Linked DNA regions of Homo sapiens: region 2 is linked to region 1. The links come from fine-mapping of genetic effects on plasma protein levels. A gene starts in region 1. The other region holds a variant in brackets. All regions are shown on one strand. Distances are between the middles of the regions.

Region 1 (16,989 bases):
TTTAAAAAACAGTAATTTAGCTGGGTGCGGTGGCTCACGCCTGTAATCTCAGCACTTTGGGAGGACAAGGCGGGTGGATCATGAGGTCAGGAGATCGAGACCATCCTGGATAACACGGTGAAACCCTGTCTGTACTAAAAAATACAAAACATTAGCCGGGTGTAGTGGCGGGCGCCTGTAGTCCCAGCTACTCGGGAGGCTGAGGCAAGAGAATGGCGTGAACCTGGGAGGCGGAGCTTGCAGTGAGCCGAGATCATGCCACTGCACTCCAGCCTGGGAGACAGAGCGAGACTCTGTCTCAAATAATAATAATAATAATAATAATTTTTAAAAATCCCAATAACAACTCTTGTCACTTACCATAGGTCTGGCATAGTTTTAAGCACTTTACATCTATATGGACTTATTTAATCTTCCCAGCAACTCTATGCAGCAAGTAGTTTTATTATCTTCATTTTACAAATTAGGAAATTGGGTTTATATTGCTTCATCATTGGTAACTATGTATTATCTATAACCAAGTGAGAGCTCTCTGCAAATGGGATCATAAGACAGATGAAGAGCCAAATACAACTAATAAATGGATAGGCCATTTATTAGTTGTAGGGCCTCGGGCAAACCACCTAATCTGTCTCAGCTAGATTTTATTTTATTTTATTTTTATTTTATTTTTTGAGACGAGGTCTCACTCTTTCACCCAGGCTGGTGTGTAGTGGCTCGATCTCGGCCCACTGAAACCTCTGCCTCCTGGGCTCAAGCGATTCTTCCACTTCGGCCTCCTGAGTGGCTGGAACTACGGGTGCACGCCACCATGCCCAGATACTTTTTGTAAGGTTTCGTCATTTTAAAATAGAGCTATTGATAGCACCTACCTCCTAGGTATGGGAGGAGTACACGAGCTAATGTTCACAAAGTGCCCAGCATGTGGAAAGTGCTCCATTCGCAGGAGCTGTTGTTACTGTGCACACATAGCTCTAAGTGTCTGGGGATCAGCCCTCAAGACAACCAAAGCCCACCCCCCTGCCATTCATCCTCACCCGGCGAATGTGGCGCTGTCCCAGGGGGTGCTCTGGTGGCTTCTGAGTGTGTACAGATTCCCGCCAGCTCAGGGCACAGGTGTGGCCTGGCAGGTGGAGATCTTGGATTCGCGAAATAATGGGAGGACCCTGAAGGTCCCCAGGCCCCTGCTCCAGGGTATAGCTTCTCTCTGGGGTCAGGACCACCAAGCCTCTAAGAAAAAAGAAAGTCAGAGAACATTTCAGCTCCATGCCTGGGTCTCCTTACTTTCTCTACTGTCATTAAATCCGCCCAGTATACCTGAGCCCAGAGCAGGTGCAGATGGACACCCAGGAGCCTGCATATCCCCGCACTCTTCCCTGGTAGCAGCAGTTCTCCTGCAGCATGGGAACAACATTAGTGCTGTCTCAGAGAGCACACCAGGACTGGAACTGAGGAGCCTAGCTTGACGGTAAAAATATGCAGTGTCCTCTCACCTTCCAGCCACCCCCTCCCTCTTTCCCCTAAGCCAAAAATGGCACAAGAGGGCCTGACTCACCAAAGTGTGTCCCTCACTGACCACCCGAGTGCCATCGGGCTGGTACCACACCAGGGTTGGGCGGCCTGGGACCAACTCCCTGTGGAGTGAAGAAAAAGAAGGCAGTGCTAAAGCCACTTCCCAGGTCGTGCATTGACAAGCAGAGGCTTGAAGGTGGTTGTGGGGCTGGGGACCAGGCAACCCCCGCAGCCAACTTTTCCACTCCTGACCCCGGGGCAGCAAAGTATACTGGTTGGGCCACTGACTCTGTTAGTTTATTTGAATTCCAATCTGGTTTTCACCACATACTAGCTGTGTGACCTGGGGCAAGTTATTTAATCTCTCTGTGCCTTGACTTCCTCATGTATAAAGTGAGGACAATAATACATGATAGTATATCCCTTATAGGGCTGTTATGAGGATTAAATGAGCACAAGCACTTAGTACCTGGCACATAATAAATGCTATACAAGTTGTTGGCCATGTGGTCACTGTTATTGCCACCATCACTATTACCTATTCTGTAGCAGCTCCAGGATATGACTGTCACCGTCCAGCTCCAACTTGATCCTCAGGGGCTCAGGCAGACTGGTCTGTGGGCACCAGAGGGCAGGTCACCTCCCTAGACCTGTCCACAACTCCCAGCCTCTCTAACCAGAAAACCTCAGGCCCACAGAAGAGCACCAGCAATTAGATCACTGGTGGGGGGATCCCAGGGGAGGGGCCAGGAAACCCTGCCTGGCCTGGAGCATTGTTCTGGGGGGTTGTGTGCGGAGGTCAAGGAAGGTATCTGAGCCACCCCTTCTCGGCTTCCTGCCCAGAGAGGAAGCACCGTGTAGGACCCAGCACAAGCCCCAGCCCTTCCTCTGACTCAGCTTTAGAATGGGGTGGGGGGGGGGGGGTTTGGTAAGGTCCTGACTCTTTCCAAATCCCCCCACTGAGAAAACCGACAACATGAGATGAAGAAAGCAAGTTTGGCTTCACAATTTCCCCAGTGGAGATGGATGGGTTGGGTGGGGCTGAGGCAGACAGATACACGTGTGTGCAGAGGGAGAGGGAGATAAGTGAAGCCAGGTGCTGGGGTGTGGTGGGAGAGGCAGCTGGGCCTGGGATAGACCCACTACAGTGAGCTCTACCCACCAGCTCCTCAGCCAAGCTTTGGCTTTGAGACACCTGGCTATACCGGGGCGTGTGTGGATTCGTTTATTTATTAGAGGGGAGTGAGAGCTCACCTGAAGCACCTTTTTGAGGCTAATTGGGAGATCGTCCTGAAGGACCTGGGGCTCCAAGGGCTCCCTCGGGGCCTTCTCTGACTCTGCCTGCTGCTCCTCAGTGCCACCTGCAGGTCCCAGGACACCCCAAGACAGTACTGAGGGAATCGACAGCAGGGCTGGGGGTGACAGGTGCCCTCAGATCCACCAGCTCCCAGCCCATCAAGACCCTTAGGTACCTGAGGGGCTTCCACATTGCATGCTGAGACTTAAAGAAGAATACTGGAAGGAGAGGGTGTCTCTCTAATTTATGGCTTTCCACCCACCAACCCATTCACAAGTCCCCAAGAAAGACTTTCGGCTTGCGCAGCCTGTGGCCCTCCTTGTCCCCTTCCGGCCAATCCCAGGTTCTCACAGGACCCTCCCCGGTTCCCACTCCCTCCCAATCACTCTCCCCCCACTTCAGGAACGCCCCCTCTCGAGACTGAGCTAAGCCTTGTGGCCGGGTGCCCGCTCACCCTCCCCTTCGCTCACATCGGAGATGCCAGGAACGCCCATTTCTGGGTGAGCAGTGCAAACACCCCCACCTCCCTAAACACCCTCATGCCCAGTCAGGCACACCCGCTGCCTACAGCCTCTGCTTCCTCCTCGAGCACCCCCCACCCCCCCAACACACAATGGCCCTCTCTCCTCCGGACACTCCACCCGCGCCTGCCCTCTCGGTCCCGGCCCAAGACAGCAGCGGGAAGTGAAAGTTCCAAGGAGGAGTTGGTGTCCCAGCCTCTTTCCTGGCCAATTCTCCCTTCTCCTGGCTCATCTCGGGCCCCTCCCGCTCGGCCAGGCACTGGTGGCAACAGCACCAGGGTGAGGAGTGCCTGGCGGCCCCAGGCCTGGAATAGAGGCTAGAGAGAATCCTCTTCACTAAACCCTACAAGCCATGCCCGCTCAGCGCCCTGGCACCGGGTCGAACGGTTAGCTAGGCCCCAGAGCAGCGAAGATGCCAGTCCTGGGGAGCAGCGACCCTCTCATCACGATCTTGAAGTGGCGCTGGACAGGCCCCTCGGTACCTGGTACCTGAGCCTGAAAGTGTCCGCAGGGACCGCGCAGAGGATGACCAGGCAGGAGGCAGGGGGCGCCGGCATCCCCCCTCCTTCTCTTTTCACCCCATCGCCAAGTCACCGGGCCCTAGGCCCAGGACAGCGGACCAGGGCGGGCCGCGCTCTGGCTGGGCTCTCCCAGGGTCTCCGTCCGGCCCCATTACCCTAATGCCTTCCGACTTTCCTGCACCTCCCTCCCAGTCCGCCCCCCGACCCACTCCAGGCGGAGGACTCACCTATATTTGGGAGCGGCCAGGAAGGCAGAGGGCTGCCCGCGCCCAGGAGCCCCAGGGCCCAGAGCAGCGCCAGCCGCATGGCAGCGGCGCTCCGGGCCGGGCGAGGGCAGCAAGTGCGGAACAGCGCGCGGAGGAGCGGCCGGCGGCCAGGTCGCCTCGGAGAACCCAGCAGCGCCGCGCGGCCACCAGGCCCCGCCCCGGCCCGCCCCCTCCCACCCGGCCCCAAGCCAAGCTCCGCCCCCGGCAAAGCCCGCCCCGCTGCGCGCCGGGTGCCTCGGGAGCGGGGACACCGCCCACTACGCCCGCGCTGCTCAGCGCTACCGCTTCCCCGCAACTGTGCGGAGTGGGAGCCGGTGCCCGGTCCGACCGGCTTGGGCGGCGCGCCTTCACCCGGCGCCAGGTCCGGACCCCTCCCTAGTAGCTTCGCGGCCTCCCTGCCTCCTGTGCGCGGCCTGGCTCGGAGAGGTCGGGCGGGCAGGCTTTCCCGACTGCAGGCGAGGCAGTGCGCGGCTCACCCCAGTCCCCGACCCACGTGAAGCGTACAGGGCATTTTATTAACCGGGAAGGACGGTGCGGAAGAGCGAGCAGGACGCCTCTTCACCCCGCGTAGGCAGTGTCGTCGTTGCTGTCACTAAAGGCGGAGGAAGAGAGCTCTTCGCGGGGCGTGCAGACCGGGCACCGCTGCCGCATGTCGTCCCAGCACGACCAGCAGTACACGGCCTCGCAGTCCAGCGTCCGGCACACGTAGGACTCGGGCGTCTCGGGTGCCTGGCACACCACGCAGCGCCGGCACAGCCAGCGGCGCAGGAGCGGGCAGCCGCGGTGCAGGATATCCGCCAGCGGGTGGCGCTGTTGGGAGGTGGGCGTTAGCGCCAGCCCGGGAGCGAGGCGGGAAAGAAGGGGAACTGGACAGCGTTTCCTGTCTGAAGTCGCCAGGCCTGACAATTCCCGCGTGTTGGAGGAGGCTGGGTTGGACAAAGGAAACCCCTGGAGGGCGAGGGTGCCTCCCTCCCCAACTCTGTGATGGAGAATGGGAGGATGCACCCTCCAGGCTCTCTCCAAGCGGATATCAGCCACAACTCTCATTTGCACTTTCCTGTAAATCATCTTATTTGGTTCTCACAGTGAGGCTGAGAAGTGAGCAGGCCAGATCGACTATCACTGTTGCTATCCCCACTTTACAGTTGAGAAAGGTGAAGTGACTCTCAAAGTCACACAGATAGTAAACAATCCAACTTGGCTGGACCCCAGGGGCCCTGATTCCAAACCACAAACCTAGTTCACTATGCTCCCTGCCATCCCTCACGACATGTCTCTACACAGTTGTCAGGGATTTTCCACAGGCCACCTTACCCAGGAAGCAGCCACTCTTTGCCCAAGAAACTCCAGAGGCCCTGCTGCCTGCCAGACAGGCAGAACTCTTGGGCTTGGCCTTCAGAGCCTTCCCTCACCTGGTCCCTTTCTAGCCTCTTTCCTACTTTAGCCCTCCCTGAGAGCTGTCTCTTCTGAGCCAGTTTCTCCTGAGACTAGCCCTGGCACTTCGCATTCCCTGTGGACTGAGTCTTTGCACATTCTGCTTGGAATGACTGTCTGGCACATTTCCATCTGTGCATTCACATTCAGTTTGCTTCACGACCCTGTCAAGGAATCCCAGCATGTTCTTTTTTGTTTTTTGTTTTTCATTTTTTCACAACACATTCATTTGGCCCCTATTGTGTGTCATGGGGGCTGGGGGTATCCAGGCCCTAGGGAAAAAGCTAAGCAAACACAGTCTCACTTTTATGAACTTTGTTAGGACTGATTAAATAAGAATGGCTGCCACTCATTGTTTATAATGTCAGGTCCTGTACTAAGATACTGTACATAAATTATTTCAATTCTAAATTAGCCGGGCGTGGTAGTGTGTGCCTGTAATCCCAGCTACTCGGGAAGCTGAGGCACGAGAATCGCTTGAACTGGGGAGGTGGAGGTTGCAGTGAGCCAAGATCACGCCACTGCACTCCAGCCTGGGCGACAGAGTGAGACTTAGTCTCAAAAAAAAAAAAAAATTCAATTCAATTGTCATGTAAGGCAGATAGTGTTATTATCATCTCCTTTTTTTCAGGTGAGAAAACTGATGCTTGGAGATGTGATCACTGCCCAGGGTCACCCAATGATAACATGCATGCATATGGAACTTGCTGCATGCCAGCACCATGTAAGTACAACTCATTTAATCCTTAAAACAACCAGATGGAGTAGTTAACCCCATTTTATGGAAGGCAAAAGCCCAGGCACAGCAGTTAAGTCATGTGCTCAAGGTCACACCGTTGTCATAGTAATGAGGGAAGGAGCCGGGATACACACTTAGGCCCTCTGGCACCGGAGTCCCACACCTGACCACCACTCTAGGCTGATCTCCAGTGAGCAGGCCTTACAGATCTCTCCAGTCTTGCCATTCTTCAGAGGGAGAAACTGAGGCTCAGTGAAGACCTTGGCCAAGGTGACACAACTTAATGAGGGAGTATGGACTGGAGTCTGCTTCCTCAGATTCCATGTGCCTTACCATGTGCCCCTGCATGAGGCCTTCCTGACTCCCAGCCCACCTGCCTCCTCCTGTCCCTTGAACTGCACTGAGCTTCTGGTCTGCAGCCCTCTGGTAGAAACTTTGGTTTTGCCTTGGGCCTCCTGTTTCTGTGCGGCCCTCTTGCTTTTCTATGAGCAGACTGTATTAAATCTCATTCTCCTTTTCTGCCTGCTTCCTAATGGTCCACTGAGTGTCTTAGGCTGGGCTGAATCCTGGGATTCAGAAACGGGCACAGCCCTGACCTTAGGAGCTGGATGGCTGGGGCCCTCAGCATGTGTTGCATCAGATTACACCGGGCTTGGCTGGGCTTGGTGGCTCACGCCTGTAATCCTAGGACTTTGGAAGGCTGAGGTGGGCAGATCACCTGAGGTCAGGAGTTTGAGACCAGCCTGGCCAACATGGTGAAACCCTGTCTCTACTAAAAATACAAAAAAATAGCTGGGCGTGATGGCGTGTGCCTGTAATCCTGGCTACTTGTGGAGTGGGGGGCTGAGATAGGATAATCGCTTGAACCTGGGAGGCAGAGGTTGCAGTGAGCCGAGATCGTGCCACTGCACTCCAGCCTGGGCGACACAGTGAGATTCCATCTCAAAAAATAAAAAGAACTTACCAGGCTCGAGTAGGCCTGCGACCATTGGTGGGTGCTGGGTGGACTGAAGGGAGCTGCCCCTTGCCTGCTGTACTTAGACCCAGCCAGGAGCTGGCAGCAGCACTTACGCCTGGACTTACCGGAGCCTTCTGCTGTCGCTCCCGCCTCAGGATAGCGGCCCTCCTGAGTTTGGTGAAGGCTGCTCTTTTCTTCAATAGGTCATTGTAGAGGAACAGGATCCGCTTCTTCTCTCGCTGGGGGCAGGAAGGGGGTCAATGATAGAGAAAGGCATCCCCCAAATATGGAGTTGGTAGGGAGCTGGGTGGTGTGTGTGTGTGTGTGCAGGTGTGTAGGGGTGGAGAGGTCTGGGGAGGGGCAAACCTTGGGGAAGTAGAAGGCTGCGATGACCCTCCGGAGTCGGTAGCCAAAAGCCTGTAACAGGCAGAGACACACTAACAGGCCAATCGGTACTGCAGCTCTCCAGTAGGCCCTGGCATCCAGGCCCACAGGCTGGGGCAGGCAGGCTAGGGGAGGGGCAGGCCAGGGGTCTGGTCAGGACCAGCCAAGGGGCAGGGCAGCCCTGGGTTGGACTTCCCATCCCAGTGGGAGGTGCAGTCCTCTGATTCCCCTGCTCTCCTCCTGCCTGCCCCTCACTGCAGAACTGCCCTGTCAGTACTGTAGCCGCTGGGCCCAATGTGGCACAGATCTTGCAGATTTCTATCTTGACTGAATGTCCTGTTGGACAGTGCTGCTCTGGAGGGCTGGGGCCCCCTAGCCACAAGACCCTGGCCTCCAGACTCCTCTGACTGAAGCTGGTCATGCTCCCCTTTTTCAAGCCTGCCCAGATGTGTTCCCTGCTCCGATTTCCCCAGCTCAAGCGCTCCAACCCCCATCTCTCCACACCCAAGGCCCAGGCCCCTAACTCTTTACCTTGGAGTCTTTTGACCCTTGCCCCACCGCCCTCGATTCCTCTGATCCAAACTTTCAGCATCACTCACGCATGTTGTTTGATTCCATCACTGTCTCTGAGGAGGTGTTCAGGGCCCCAATGGTTTTTCGAAGAAGCCGGGCTAGCATGGAGTCTCCCCCGACCTTCACCTCCAGTTTATGACTGCCTGCGGCCAGGAGGACAGGTAGGGAAGTCAGGGCAGGTGGAGAAATCAGGAATGTGTTAAGGGGGTGGATGTCAGGGAGGGGTCAAGACACAGAAATGCTTCTCAGCTGCCTGAGTCTTTCTGTCCCTTCCTGAATCCTAACCCCTCCCTGCTCCCAGTTGTAAGTGTAAAGGGGTACAGAGCCCCCCTCCCCTGCTGTGAGAGCTGTCAGGTTGCAGGGCTGTCATTTGACCTTGAGGAGGACAGGGAGGGGCTGAATCACAGAAAGGGGAAAAGAACAGGCAGAAGGATGGCTGGCACAGTGGCACACACCTGTAATCCCAGCACTTTGGGTGGCCGAGGCAGGTGGATCACTTGAGGTCAGGAGTTCGAGACCAGCCTGACCAACATGGTGAAACTCTGTCTCTACTAAAAATAGAAAAATTAGCTGGCCGTGGTGGCTCACACCTGTAATCTCAGCTACTCAAGAGGCTGAGGCAGGAGAACTGCTTGAACCTGGGAGGTGGAGGTTGCAGTGAGCTGAGATTGTGCCAATGCACTCCTCCAGCCTGGGTGACAGAGCGAGACTCTTTGTCTCAAAAAAAAAAAAAAAAAAGAGGCAGAAGGACGAGGCACAGTTGGAAGAACTAGGGTGGGGTGGCTGTGCAGGCATTGGAGTTCTCCAGAGGGTGTCTCTTGGGCCTGGAATGTGTCTGGGGGATGGGCTTACTGCGGAAGGAGTACTGCAGGAAGGAGTGGTGGCGGATGGTGTCGAAGATGGAGTAGAGAGCCCAGTCCAAGCCACACAGCACCACCAGCAGCAGCAGAATGGGCAGTGTCTCCAGGAGCTCCCTCACCTGGCCAAGGAGCAGGAGGGGCAGAGCTGGGCAGTGCCATCTGCCTGGGCACGGAGCACTCTCTGGTGCCTTTTACCCTCCACCCTCACCTTCAGGCCTGTCTTTGCACCCAGGAGTCCGCTCCCCATGCTGTCCTCACCACATTGCTCATTTCTGAGGCCTGGATGGTGGGCTTGCAAGGGAAGATGACGGTTTTCTCCTCAGCTTTGCGGAGTGGCAGCAGAGTCCGTTTGCCCTGGAAAACAAATGTCCACACAGTTAGGAAGCCCAAGGGCCCTCTGCCCTTTCCTCTCTGCCTTCCTGGAGCATGAACCCACACAGGGCACACAGCAGCAAGGCATCCCCGGGCAGTGCCGTGCCCACTCACCAGCTTCTTCCTGCGGTCATCGATCTGGCAGAAGTAGGTACTGATGTAGATGTTGTCAAAACGAATGTCATGGTTATAGCTGTCCATGTAGGAGAAAGACCTGTGGGTGGATGGGCAGGGATGTCTCCATCTCTTCCAGGTTCTCCTCATCTATCCCCAAACATGGGCTTCCTTGAGGCACAGTCATTCAACCAACCAGCCAGCATTCATTGAGCACCATCTATGTCCTGGGCACTGCTAGGGGATGGTGATAACAGGGAGAAGACTCTGTCCCTGCCTTCCAATTGTGTAGAGGAAGACATCCCCCTACATGATGGGTGAGACATAGCAGAAGTGAGTAGGGGATGAGGTGGGGGCTCAGAGGAGGGCATGGTCAGCCTGTCTGGGAGGGAGTTGCATGTGTGCATCTGAGGTAGGGACAGGCATGCATCTTACAGGATGAATATCGAGCAGAGTTACAGAGAGGGGGAAACTCCTTGAGGTTTCAGGAATCACCTAATCCACTGTGACTCACAAATTCCTGCCTCTTGGCTTTGCCTGCAGCATATCTCCTGGAAGTGTGCTGGGGCAAAACTCATCCCAGACCACCATCTCCATCCTCCCCCAATACACCCTGGCTCTCCCTGGCTACCCTTGAGCACGGTGCACGTGTGCATGGGTGCATGCCTGCATATATAGCTATCCCCCATGTATTTCCCAAAGCCCTACATAATGCTTCAGTTTGCTAAGGAAAAAATGTTAATTACTGCAAATGTGTTTAAAACTGTAAAAGTACATTAAACAAACTCTGTAAAGTGTGAAACATTAGTTTCAATGCTATTGCTTCTGGGGCCCTGTAAAAATCCACATCTTTGCCTTTAAAACTACTGTAAGTGCAAAGACATACTGTGAGTGCCCTCTTGTGGAGAGGCTCACAGAGGTGGTGCCTGGGCTTCCTGAGCCAGGGCCTGCCCTCCCGCCAGCTGTCCTTTCAGTGCATGACCTCACCCAGCTTGAAAGCCTGGAAGTAGCTTTTGACTCTGTGCCTCCTTCCTTCCCTCCACAAGCTGGCTCTGAGCCTCGCTGCACCTTTCCCCTTCCCCCACCATCTCAAGCCATCTTCCTGCCATGCTCTACCCGGGCCAGGCTCCCTAACCTCCAACCCAGCCTGGCCTCCCGCCCTCCCTCCAGACTTCCTGAGGCCATCTTGCCACCACCGCCAGTTCCAGGTCTTCCTGCAGGGCTTTCCAGACTGTTCTGGTCATGCCCACTTCAGTTCTCCAGGCCAGCCTCTGCCCTCTGCATCCCATGGATACCAGGAGCCTTACGCAAGGGACACCCTTCTTTCCTTGACCACCGTTCCGCATCTGCGGCCATTTGGAGCCCAGTTATTGCCCTTCCAAGGGGCACCTTCCCAGCTCCCATACACGTCTCAAAAGCCAATCCATAGAATGGCCCTTGAACCATCTCTGTCTTGTGGGTGTCTCATGATCCCAACTAGATCATTAGCTTTTTTTTTTTTTTTTTTTTTTTGAGACAAGCTCTCACTCTGACACCAGGCTGGAATGCAGAATGCAGTGGCACAATCACAGCTCACTGCAGCTTCGACCTCCCAGTGATTCTCCTGCCTCAGCCTCCCAAGTAGCTGGGACTACAGGCATGTGCCCCACACCTGGCTGATTTTGTTCATTTTTTGTAGAGACGAGGTCTCACTGTGTTACCCAGGCTGGTCTCAAACACCTCAACTCAAGCCATCCTCCCACCTCGGCTTCCCAAAATGTTGGGATTACAGGAGTGAGCCGCCATGCCTGGCGATCATGAGCTTATTGGGGGCAGGAATAGAGCTCCTTCATCTTTGTCTTCCCATGGGGCCCTAGATACACACATACCCACTCACTTGCAGTCACTCTAGGCCCCCCACATAGGGGCAGACAGAGCAACAGCCCTGTGGCAGCCCTCACCCAAGCCCTGCCCATCTCAGGTGTTTGGGAGTGGAGATGGGAAATAGAGGGTCCAGAGACCAGCAGGGGAGCTAGAGCAGAGCAAGGCCCGGGGCAGCCCAGCTGGACACTGGGCTGGGTGGGGTTGAGGACTTTGTTCTAAATGGAGGGAAAGTCGCTGCCAACGCAGCAGGCAGGAGAAAATGAAAGCAAAATGGAAAGATAAAAATGGCACAAAGTCAGAGCCAAGGGGAATATGAAGGGCAAGAAAAAATCAAAAGTCAAAGCTAAACGTAAAAAAAAAAAATCAGTATTGGGATAAAGGCTGGAAGGAGGTGGATGAATGAAGACGGTTGGCCTTTTAAGGCAGTGGGAACATGGGTAATGTTCTTCTGACAAAATGTCCACTTTTCCTTTAACTTTGTGTAAACAAAGACAAAGGTAAATAATATTCAGATTCAGAGGTGAGGATAGGTGCTAGGGTTCCATCCTTACAGCCTCCCTCAGGGCAGGGCTCCAGTCCGGGGCAGAGGAGGGGCTGCTGGGGTGGGGACTATGGCTCACGCATGCAGGACCAGCAGGAAAGTGCAGGAGAGCAGCACGTGCAGCAGCCCCAGGGCCCACTCCAGCCGGGCCTCCTGGCGGTACACGTAGTCCCGCACCTCGGTGCTCACGCGCTCCCAGCTTGTGTTGAGCCCCAGCACCCCAGCCTGCTTCTCTTCCTGGTGGAGGGCACATGAGCAAACTCAGCCTGCGGCCACCTCGTCAGACCTGGGTCCCACCTCTTCATGACATCTGTTCCCCAGTACCCCACTTGTGTCCCTGGGGCCCTCCCAGGACCTCTAGGAGTTGTCACTTCCTTCTGCTCACCACCCTCCTGGACACAGTCTTGCTCCCCTGCACCTACATCAGCTGACATCATCTCATATCTGGCTGATAGCTCCCACCCCAGGCCAAGTCTGCACAAACCACAGGCTTGGCACTGTCCCCTCCTCACCACCTTTCCCCTCCCCTGCCCATCTCAGGTGTTCGGGGGTGGAGATGGGAAACAGAGGGCCCCCTCAACACCAGCGACATTCCCCCTCCTTGTCCCCCTCCCTCACCCCTGGTCACCTCTTTCCTGTGCCCTCTCACTTGTCCTTCCTCTAGCTCTATTCCCTCATGCCCTCCTCCCACTCCCTATCTACCCCCCACCAACCCTCGCCCTTGCCTTCTACCTTGAAGTCAATATTGGCTGAAAATTCCCCATCCAGGCCACGAATAGACTGGTTGAGGGAGTCGTAGGTCTGCCCAAAGTTGCCTTCCACTGGGATGCGATTGCGGCACCAAACCTCCATCACTGGTGAACAGTGGACGGGGTCAGGGGCCTCCCCGGGCCTGTCCTCCAGGTGCAGGCCTGGCCTGCCTGTCCTCCTGTAGTCCTCCTCATCCTGCTTTTTTGTCTCTCTGCCCATGGCTTGCTACCACACCAATGCTGAGTCTTCCCCTCTCTGCTCTCTTTGGATCCTGCCCTCCAGGAACCAGACCTGAGTTCCCTCATTTTTGTCAATCTATCCTCAACCATAACAAACATCAGTAAGGAGAGCCAGCGTTTACAGAGCAGCTCCTCTGTGTGCCAGCTCTGCCACTGCCTTCACATACGTTAGCCCCATAAATCCTTAAAAGCCCTTAATGTGGCTGGGTGCGATGGCTCACACCTGTAATCCCAGCACTTTGGGAGGCTGAGGTGGGTGGATCACCTGAGGTTAAGAGTTCAAGACCAGCTTGGTCAACGTGGTGAAACCCCGTCTCTACTAAATATACAAAAATTAGCTGGGCATGGTGGCGGCCACCTGTAATCCCAGCTACTCAGGAGGCTGAGGCAGGAGAATCGCTTGAACCCGGGAGGCAGAGGTTGCGGTGAGCCGAGATTGCGCCACTGCACTCCAGTCTGGGTGACAAGAGTGAAGCACCCCGTCTCAAAAAAAAAAATTAATGCAAGAACTACTGTTATTCTGCCCATGCGCATCTTTCAGATGAAAAGCCACAGCTCAGAGCTTTGCTGTAACTCACCCTGCGTCACAGAGCTATTCAGCAGGTGGAGGGCTCTAAGGATGCTGTGGCCTCAGGGCCAAAACCCTCCTCATCTGTTGCTTTCCTGCCTGTCACCTACCAGTGGGTCCCAAGGACTCAGCTCCCTACCCCGATGCTCCCCACCCCTTTGCAACTGTGCAGACCCTTGGCAATGCCACAGAAGAACTTGAACTTCATAGGCAGGCAGAGCAGGTGGGTGAGGAGTGGGACCCAGATGTGCTTCATGCACTGTTCATGCTTGCGGTCAAACCAACGACGGCAGCTGAGTATGGCCTGGTTCACCACATCTGTAGGAAGGAGCAAGGGTGTCTGAGGTTCCCACATCTTGATCCACAATGCTGGCCCCACATCCCACCCCACCCTCCACTCCCCAGGGATACCCCTCACAGGAGCAACGCAGCTTGGTCTTCAGCTCATACATCTTCTGTGTCGACAGGTGGAGTCTGGAGGCTGGGGCTTGGCGGGCCTCCCTGCCCTGGGCTGTCTCCCCTGAGTCCATGGTATCCTCAGGCGTGTAGCCCGTCTCACTATTCACCTGGGCATCCAGGTCCTCAAAAGTGGCGGAGATGTTCCGAGTCTCTGCTCTCAGCAATTCTTTGCTACTCTGGGATTGGAGGTGGAGGGAGGAAAGGGTGAGGGCTGGGGCTTTAGAACTTCTGCTGCCTGAGGGCCTGTCCTCCCCCAGTAGCCAAGCTTTGGGTTCTCACCCCAGGCCGACAGGGAGCCTAGGCCCTGAGACACAGCCTCTCACCTCAAATTCCCGGCTGTCCATTGCCCTTGGGAGCCCCCCCACCAGCTGCCTTGTCTGATGCCACATGTCCTGGCTCTGCGTACCTCCCAGACTCTCAGCTCTTCCTCAGTCCTCCCATCCCAGACCCTTCCTGGTCAGTGGTTCCCCAGGTCCTTAGACCTTACCCTTCACCACTAGTCTCTGAGATCATTATGCCATCTGAATGCCCCCAACTTCCAAACCCCTCAGCCCCCATGTCCCCAACTCTCCAGCTCTCCAATTCTCCCAAACCCCCAGTCTCCAGCCTTCCAATACCCAATTCTTGAATACTCTTGTCTTCGAAACTTCTGAGCTACTCAAGGCCAAAGCCCCCAAATTTCCTAGATATTCTAGTTCAGCTGTCCAGAGTACTGACCACTCAGGTATTAGGAAATGTGTATAGAGCATGTCCTAATGACTCAGGGGCTCTCCTGGCATTTAACACCAGGACCAGGGCACGTTCTGCAATGTTTGGGAATAGTTCTGCAAAAAATGCCAGTAGTATCCCCATTGGGAAACTGTAAATCCAGGGTGACAACTCCCAGCTCAAGTTAACTTGGCCCCAGGGAGAGGGACCCCCCAGGCTCTGCCTGTGCAGATTCCTGACCAGCAGGTCCTTGAACATGGCCCGTAAGGGGGCTGTGGAGATGCGCCAAGCTGCGCGGGTGTTGTTGATCTGCAGCTCCACGGTGCAGCCCAGCGATGCGATCACGTTGTTGAGATTGTGTCGCAGATTGGCTACTGGCCCTGGAGAAAGAGGCCCTGGTTGGTCACCTCCCTGTATAACCAGCACTTTCTCAAACCCGCTCAGCTTCCCTCTGCAAATAGTGCCCATCGCCTAGAACTATACAGTGGTGGGGCCGAGAGCCTATGAAAGGTCAACTTGTTCAACCTTTGATTTTTTTCACTGTTTTTTTTTTTTTTTTTTTGAGACGGAGTCTCCCTCTGTTGCCCAGGCTGGAGTGCAGTGGCTCGATCTCTGCTCATTGCAACCTCCGCCTCCCGGGCTCAAGCGATTCTCCTGCCTCAGCCTCCTGAGCAGCTGGGATTACAGGCACACGCCACCATGTCTGGCTAATTTTTTGGTATTTTTAGTAGAGACGGGGTTTCAGCATGTTGGTCAGGCTGGTGTCGAACTCCTGACTTCGTGATCCGCCCGCTTCGGCCTCCCACAGTTCTGGGATTACAGGTGAGCCACCGTGCCTGGCCTTTTTTTTTTTTTTTTTTTTTTTTTTTTTTTTGAGACGGAGTCTTGCTCTGTCACCCAGGCTGGAGTGCAATGGCGCAATCTCGGCTCACTGCAGGCTCCGCCTCCCAGGTTCAAGTGATTCTCCTGTCTCAGCCTCCCGAATAGCTGGGACTATAGGTGTGCACCACCATGCCTGGCTAATTTTTGCATTTTTAGTAGAGATGGGGTTTCACCATGGCTGGTCTTGAACTCCTGACCTCAGGTGATCCACCCACCTCAGCCTCCCAAAGTGCAGGGATTACAGGCATGAACCACCGTGCCTGGCCAATGTTTTCACTCTTATAAACTGAGGAGGCCCAGATATGGGGAGGAGCTCCCTCAGGGACATACAGTGAGTTAGAGCAGCTGGGATGACACTCCTGTCTTTTCTCCTTCACCCGGCCTGGCTCCCATTGGATGACCCACCCAGGGTCACTGCTTCAGTGTAACTCACTGGCCCCCACATACTCACCCACATAGATGGCAGCCAAGGCGTATCCCAGGACAAAGAGCCTGCCTTCCTTGCCCAGCATCTTGGGTACTAGTAGGAGGCTGGCACAGCGGATGTGAGGGGAGGTCCCCCAGCCCATGGCCCCCAAGCCTGTCAGGAGAGCCCAGGAGGTGGTGAGCTGAAGTGAGGAAGCTGCCTCCCTTCCTCACGTTTACCAGAGCACCCACCTGCAACACCCCCTTCTGGAACCACCACCATCCTGCCCTTATCCCCATTTACACTGACTCTGATAGACCTGCTGGGCCACTCATTCATTCATTCAGCAGCCACTCACAGAGTTTAGCTATGTGCCAGTCTCTGGAAGGGCATAGAGGGATGGCTAGAACTTAAAAAACCACAAATGATTGACTTGTGTGTGTTTGTGTTAGGGAAGGAAGCCAAGGTTTTCCGGGCTACAGTGACACTGACCCTAGGTGCTGAGGGAGCAGAGAGAGCAAGAGAAAATATCTGGAAACAGGTGCTCATGCTCAGAATGGTCAGAAGAGAGATCAGAGCCCACCTCAGTACTCCCAGTACTCAGACACCTACAGCACTCGCAGTCCCTGCCTCTAATTTTAGCCCTTGGTCATGTACCGCCTGGTATGTTTTAGCAGTTTCACATGTGTCTCCCTGTGGTCTCTGCAAGGAGACAGTGAACTTCTGGAAGCTCATAATCCAGAGAAAGAGACAGATGAGTAAACAAGTGACTACAACACGATGTGCTAAGTGCACAAGGGAGGTGCTTATAGAGCGCTGTGGGAGCCAAGGAGGGAGTACGTATTTCTTCAGGGAGGGGTGGGGCTGAGAAGGCTGGACAAAGACAGGACGTGTCAGCTGGGCCTGGAAGGTGAGTAAGTGTTGTTAGGAGGTGCAGATGGCATTCCAGGCCAAAGGAACAGTATAAGCTGGTCGGGGGAGCTAGAAGATTCCTGTGTTGATGGAATGTTCACCCAATGATC
Region 2 (5,647 bases), 860 kb before region 1:
TGCTATCTTGCAATGTTAATACTTAAAATTCTCTCTGTGGGTCACCTTTGTGAGGATTTGACTTTTATTTCTTCTTTTGAAGCCATGACCATGCAGTTCATCAGCCACCGATTCCCAGAAGATCATGATCCCACCATTGGTAAGCCAGATCATCACTTATGTTTCCAAATATACCCCATAAAAATATCTTAATGAATATCAGTAGTTTCTAACTATTTATATTTTGAGGCTTTTTTGGAGTCTAATTCAGATTTATTTAGAAACAAGGGTATCAGCAGTTGGTAAGCAACTGAATATTTCTTTTTTTTTCAGACTTTATGTCATAAGCCATCTTTAGTCTTTGTCTCTTACTGAACATTAATGGGACAACTCTCTTTGTTGTATTTTTTTATGGTTGTATACAGGCCACTTAACGAAGCCTTTTCTTGCTGTCACTTCTCTAAGGGTATGACTTGAGACTCGCTCTGTAACTGTGAGTCAGCTGGTTTGAACTTCCACAAAAGGAAGCAGAGAAACAAGTAGAGCCAGGCTGCTGAACTCTTACAACCCAGACATGCCAAGCCTGGACATCTTGCACTTGGAGCTCTTGGTTTACTTCCTTATACCTTAAGTTCATTACGTAGTAATGTCTTCTCCCATGTCTGTCTGTTGTTTTTTTTTTTTTTTTGAGATGGAGTCTCGCACTGTCTCCCAGGCTGGAGGGCAATGGTGCGATCTCCGGTCACTGTAACCTCCGCCTCCCGGGTTCAAGCAATTCTCCTGCCTCAGCCTCCTGAGTAGCTGGGATTACAGGCATCTGCCACCACACCCGGCTAATTTTTGTATTTTTAGTAGAGATGGGATTTCACTATGTTGGCCAGGCTGGTCTCAAACTCCTGACCTCAAGTAATCCATCCACCTCAGCCTCGAAAAGTACTGGGATTACAGGCGTGAGCCACTGTGCCTAGCCCTCCGATGTCTTTTATGGTCCTTAACTCTTGTTGCAGAACGCTAATAGAGTAAAAAAGTCATTTTGTTTGCTTTGACTTTTTTATTTTTTAATTGCTAATCTCTACAAAGACTAAGAACATTACTGTCATTCCTAAACCATAAGGAAGCAGGTTTGATTCTAAGGGTTTATATCCTAATATGAAAGAAAAATGGATGTGGGAATGGGAGAGGGCACAGAAAGTCAGCTGTACTGTTATTTTCTTTTTTTGTTTTTTTTTTTGGAGACGGTGTCTCACCCTGTTGCCCGGGCTGGAGTGCGGTGGCACAATCTCGGCTCACTACAAGCTCCACCTCCCAGGTTCATGCCATTCTCCTGCCTCAGCCTCCCGAGTATCTGGGACTACAGGCGCCCGCCACCAAGCCCGGCTAATTTTTTTTTGTATTTTTAGTAGAGATGGGATTTCACCGTGTTAGCCAGGATGGTCTCAATCTCCTGACCTCGTGATCTGCCCACCTCGGACTCCCAAAGTGCTGGGATTACAGGCGTGACCACTGCGCCGGGCCTTATTATTTTCAGTATGTGACACTCTTTGCCATGATCCTAGTTCTCTAGGAAGGATTTCCATTGGGTCAGGCCTCTGCTGCTCTGTTTCCCGCAAAGCCAATAATGTTTTGTGGTGGCCCAGCTTTGATATGGTCATTTCATAGAGCACATGATTCCAGGGATGGGAAAAATAGAAAAAGTCTTGACTTTTTCATGTACTATATCAAATTTAGAACACTGTTCAGAGATTCAGGCCAGGCGCGGTGGCTCATGCCTGTAATCCCAGCACTTTGAGAGGTCGAGGCGGGTGGAGCACCTGAGGTCAGGAGTTCGAGACCAGCCTGGCCAACATGGTGAAACCCCATCTCTACTAAAAATACCAAAACTAGCCGGGCGTGGTGCTGGGTGCCTGTAATCCCAGCTACTGCGGGGGCTGAGGCAGGAGAATTGCTTGAACCTGGGAGGCGGAGGTTGCAGTGAGCCGAGATAGTGCCATCACACTCCAGCCTGGGGGATAAGAGCAAGCTTTTGTCTCAAAAAAAAAAAAAAAAATTGTTCAGAGATTCAAATTATGGCGGGAGTTCTAGGAATAAAATGAATTTAGGGCTTACGCATATGTACTTGAGAACTCCAAAAGCATCTTTTCCTTTCTTTTTTTTTGAGACAGAGTCTGACTCTGTCATCCAGGCTGGAGTGCAGTGGCGCCGTCTTGGCTCACTGCAAGCTCCGCCTCCCGGGTTCACGCCATTCTCCTGCCTCAGCCTCCTGAGTAGCTGGGACTACAGGGGCCCATCACCACGCCCGGCTAATTTTTTGTACCTTTAGTAGAGACAGGGTTTCACTGTGTTAGCCAGGATGGTCTCGATCTCCTGACCTCGTGATCTGTCTGCCTTGGCCTCCCAAAGTGCTGGGATTACAGGCGTGAGCCACCGTGCCCGGCCGCGTCTTTCCCTTTCTTTAAAGTAAAACTCAAATACTCGTCTCCTGTAAGAGTTATCTGTATTTTTTTTTTTGTTTTTTTTTTTTAGATGGAGTCTCACTGTCGCCCAGGCTAGAGTGCAGTGGCATGATCTCGGCTCACTGCAGGCTCCGCCCCCCCGGGGTTCATGCCATTCTCCTGCCTCAGGCTCCAGCGTAGCTGGGACTACAGGCACCCGCCACCTCGCCTGGCTAATTTTTTGTATTTTTAGTAGAGACGGGGTTTCACCGTGTTAGCCAGGATGGTCTCGATCTCCT[G/C]ACCTTGTGATCCGTCCGCCTCGGCCTCCCAAAGTGCTGGGATTACAGGCGTGAGCCACCGCATCCGGCCAAGTTATCTGTTTTAATCAATTTTCCTCCAGTTAACTACTCTCCTGGCAATATTATCTGATTCAACAGCAAATACTTATGTCTTCTGAGTTTCTATTATGTGCCAAGCACTGCTTACCCTCAGGGTACAGTGGTGATCAAAAAGATGAGGTTTCTGTTCTTGAGTTTCTAATTTAGTGCATTTGATTTCAAGCTCTGGCTGTAAACTCAGAAAAACTTTACATTGTAACTGGTAGAGATATAAAAGCATACAAGGCCGGGTGCGGAGGCTTACGCCTGTAATCCTGAGCCTGCAATCCTGTAATCGAAGCACTTTAGGAGGCCAAGGCACCTGAGGTCAGGAGTTCAAGACCAGCCTGGCCAACATGGTAAAACCCCATCTCTACTGAAAATACAAAAATTAGCTGGGCGTGTTACTGCTGCATGCCTGTAATCCCAGCTACTCAGGAAGCTGAGGTGGGAGAATTCCTTGAACCCAGAAGGCAGAGGTTGCAGTGAGCCGAGATTGCACCACTGCACTCCGCCCTGAGCGACAGAGTGAGACTTTGCCTCAAAAAAAAAAAAAAAAAGCATATGAATGTGTGCATATGTATATATAAATTATATACACAAGCGCATGTGTATGTGTAGCTAAAATATTATGAAACTTTACCTCACTACATCTGGTGCACTCTGATATTTTCTTTTCTTTTCTTTTTTTTTGAGACAGGGTCTCACTCTGTTGCCCATGCTGGAGTGCAGTGTTGTGATCTTGGCTCACTGCAGCCTGGACCTCCTGGGTTCAGGTGATCCTCCCGCCTCACCCTACCAAATACCTGGGACTGCAGGCGTAGGCCACTAAGCCCAGCTAATATTTTTGGATTTTTAGTAGAGATGAGGTCTCGCTCTATTGCCCAGGCTGGTCTCAAACTCCTGAGCGCAAGTGATCCTCCCACCTGGACCTCCCAAAGCACTGAGATTACAGGCGTGAGAGCCACTGTACCTCACCCACTCTGGTATTTTCTTTCTTTTTTTTTCTTTTTTTCTTTTTTTTTTTTTTTTTTTTTTGAGACGGAGAATTTCACTCCTGTTGCCCAGGCTAGAGTCCAGTGGCACAATCTTGGCTCACTGCAACCTCCACCTCCCAGTTCAAGCGATTCTCCTGCCTCAGCCTCCCAAGTAGCTGGGATTACAGGCGCCTGTGACCACATCCAGATAATTTTTGTATTTTTAGTAGAGATGGGGTTTCACCACATTAGCCAGGCTGGTCTTGAACTCCTGACCTCAGGTGATCCACCCGCCTCAGCCTCCCAAAGTGCTGGGATTACAGGCATGAACCACTGTGCCTGGCCTGGTATTTTCTATTTTTATTTAGGTTTCTGCTTGTTTATTTTAATGCTGGTCCCGGCCCATTAAGTAGATTTCACAACTCACTAATCCTAATGAATAATTGAGAAGCATTGATTTAATGAGCTCTTCATCTTTGAGGAAGAGACAGAAGCAGGAATTCAAGAAAAAATGTTAAAAGGAAATACATTGAGATGTAAGCAGCAGTTGTTAAGTGAATGAAATATTGCGTGGCTTTTTTTTTCTTTTTAGTTTTCTATATTTTCCAAGGTTACTATAGTAATATGCATAAAGAAATTTGCTTTCAGAAAAGAGAAATTACGAAACTGTGGATTATTTAGAAAATAGTCAGTTAGACCGGGTGCAGTGGCTCACGCCTGTAATCCCAACACTTTGGGAGGCTGAGGCAGGTGGATCATTTGAGGTCAGGCGTTCAAGACCAGCCTGGCCAACATGGTGAAACCCTGTCTATACTAAAAATACAAAAATTAGCCGGGCAATAGTGGCATGTGCCTGTAATCCCAGCTACTCAGGAGGCTGAGGCAGGAGAATCCCTTGAGCCTGGGAGGCAGAAGTTGTGGTGAGCCGAGATCATGCCACTGCACTCCAGTCTGGGTGATAGAGTGAGAGCCTGTCTCAAAAAAAAAAAAAATAGTGAATTATATATTTTTTTCCTTTTTTGTAGTATTGAGGAGGAAGTATAACACATGGTTAATAATGCTTTTCAGTTCAGCAATCTTGGATTTTAATCCTCATTCTGTCACTAATTAACTAATTTAGAGAAGACATTAATATTTTCAAGTTGAATTTTCTTTAGCTGTAAAATGGAGGTAATAATGCCTACTTCATTGGATTATTGTGATTATTGAAGAATTAATATATATAAGTTACTTAGTATAATGTCTGGTAGATAATAACAATTTAATAAATGGTAAAGTTACTTTTCAGGCCTAATTTTTTTTTTCCCCTAAGAGATGGGGTCTCGGCTGAGTGCAGTGGCCCACACCTGTAATACCAGCACTTTGGGAGGCCAAGGCAGGAGGATTGTTTCAACCCAGGAGTTCGAGACTAGCCTGGACAACATTGCAAAATCCTATGTCTACCAAAAATACAAAAAAATTAGCCAGACATGGTGGTAGCACGCCTGTAGTTCCAGCTACTTGGGAGGCCAAGGTGGGAGAATCACTGGAGCCTGGGAAGTCAAGGCTACAGTGAACCGAAATTGCACCACTGCACTCCAGCCTGGGTGACAGTGAGACCCTGTCTCAAGAAAAAAAAAAAAAGATGAGCTGTTGCTGTGTTGCCCAGGCTGGTCTTGAACTCCTGGGCTCAAACAATACTCCTGTCTCAGTCTCCCAAGTAGCTGGGATTATAGGCAGTCACCACTGTGCCCAGATAGCCTAATTTTTTTAAGAAAGACATCTTCTCAGAATCCTTTTTTAGCTTAGAATTGTAGGTGAAATCTTCAGCTGTGAATAAACTACATCATCACCTATGTGGAAAAAAAAACTTCAGTTGAAGACTCAGTTTATGTATCTCAGT

Alleles and levels. Positions count from the first base shown, and alleles are read on the strand shown. Strength reflects both the effect of a copy and how common the allele is.
With allele G in place of C in region 2, the plasma level of the protein whose gene starts at base 4,228 in region 1 is lower (strong association).

Evidence for each region. PIP is the posterior inclusion probability: the model's chance that the variant is causal. Protein levels are from antibody-based Olink assays in UK Biobank. Linkage for the fine-mapping came from a reference panel and not from the study's own genotypes, which makes the PIPs less certain.
Region 2: its variant is fine-mapped to the plasma level of the ADAM15 protein (UK Biobank, PIP above 0.99).

What each region holds. Positions count from the first base shown.
Region 1 is chr1:155,038,555-155,055,543 of GRCh38, reverse strand. It overlaps ADAM15 (ADAM metallopeptidase domain 15), which reads right to left and starts at 4,228. Exons shown (of 23, transcript NM_207197.3): 1 at 4,079-4,228; 2 at 2,767-2,873; 3 at 2,051-2,127; 4 at 1,556-1,634; 5 at 1,318-1,394; 6 at 1,038-1,230. The coding sequence starts at 4,157. It overlaps DCST1 (DC-STAMP domain containing 1), which reads right to left. Exons shown (of 17, transcript NM_152494.4): 5 at 16,013-16,141; 6 at 14,920-15,059; 7 at 13,931-14,147; 8 at 13,687-13,830; 9 at 12,688-12,809; 10 at 12,035-12,192; 11 at 9,552-9,651; 12 at 9,324-9,419; 13 at 9,058-9,184; 14 at 8,232-8,348; 15 at 7,615-7,757; 16 at 7,374-7,487; 17 at 4,614-4,927. The coding sequence ends at 4,676. DCST1-AS1 (DCST1 antisense RNA 1) reads left to right here. Exons shown (of 4, transcript NR_040773.1): 2 at 6,183-6,275; 3 at 9,389-9,584; 4 at 9,691-10,353. It overlaps ADAM15-EFNA4 (ADAM15-EFNA4 readthrough), which reads right to left and starts at 4,228. Exons shown (of 26, transcript NR_176418.1): 1 at 4,079-4,228; 2 at 2,767-2,873; 3 at 2,051-2,127; 4 at 1,556-1,634; 5 at 1,318-1,394; 6 at 1,038-1,230. RefSeq lists a silencer at 4,064-4,523 and an enhancer at 4,994-5,053.
Region 2 is chr1:155,904,942-155,910,588 of GRCh38, reverse strand. RIT1 (Ras like without CAAX 1) reads left to right here. Exons shown (of 6, transcript NM_006912.6): 3 at 83-139. Among named protein-coding and RNA genes, the nearest start is that of RIT1, 3.6 kb to the left of the region's middle. The variant G/C (reference allele first, on the strand shown) is at 2,711.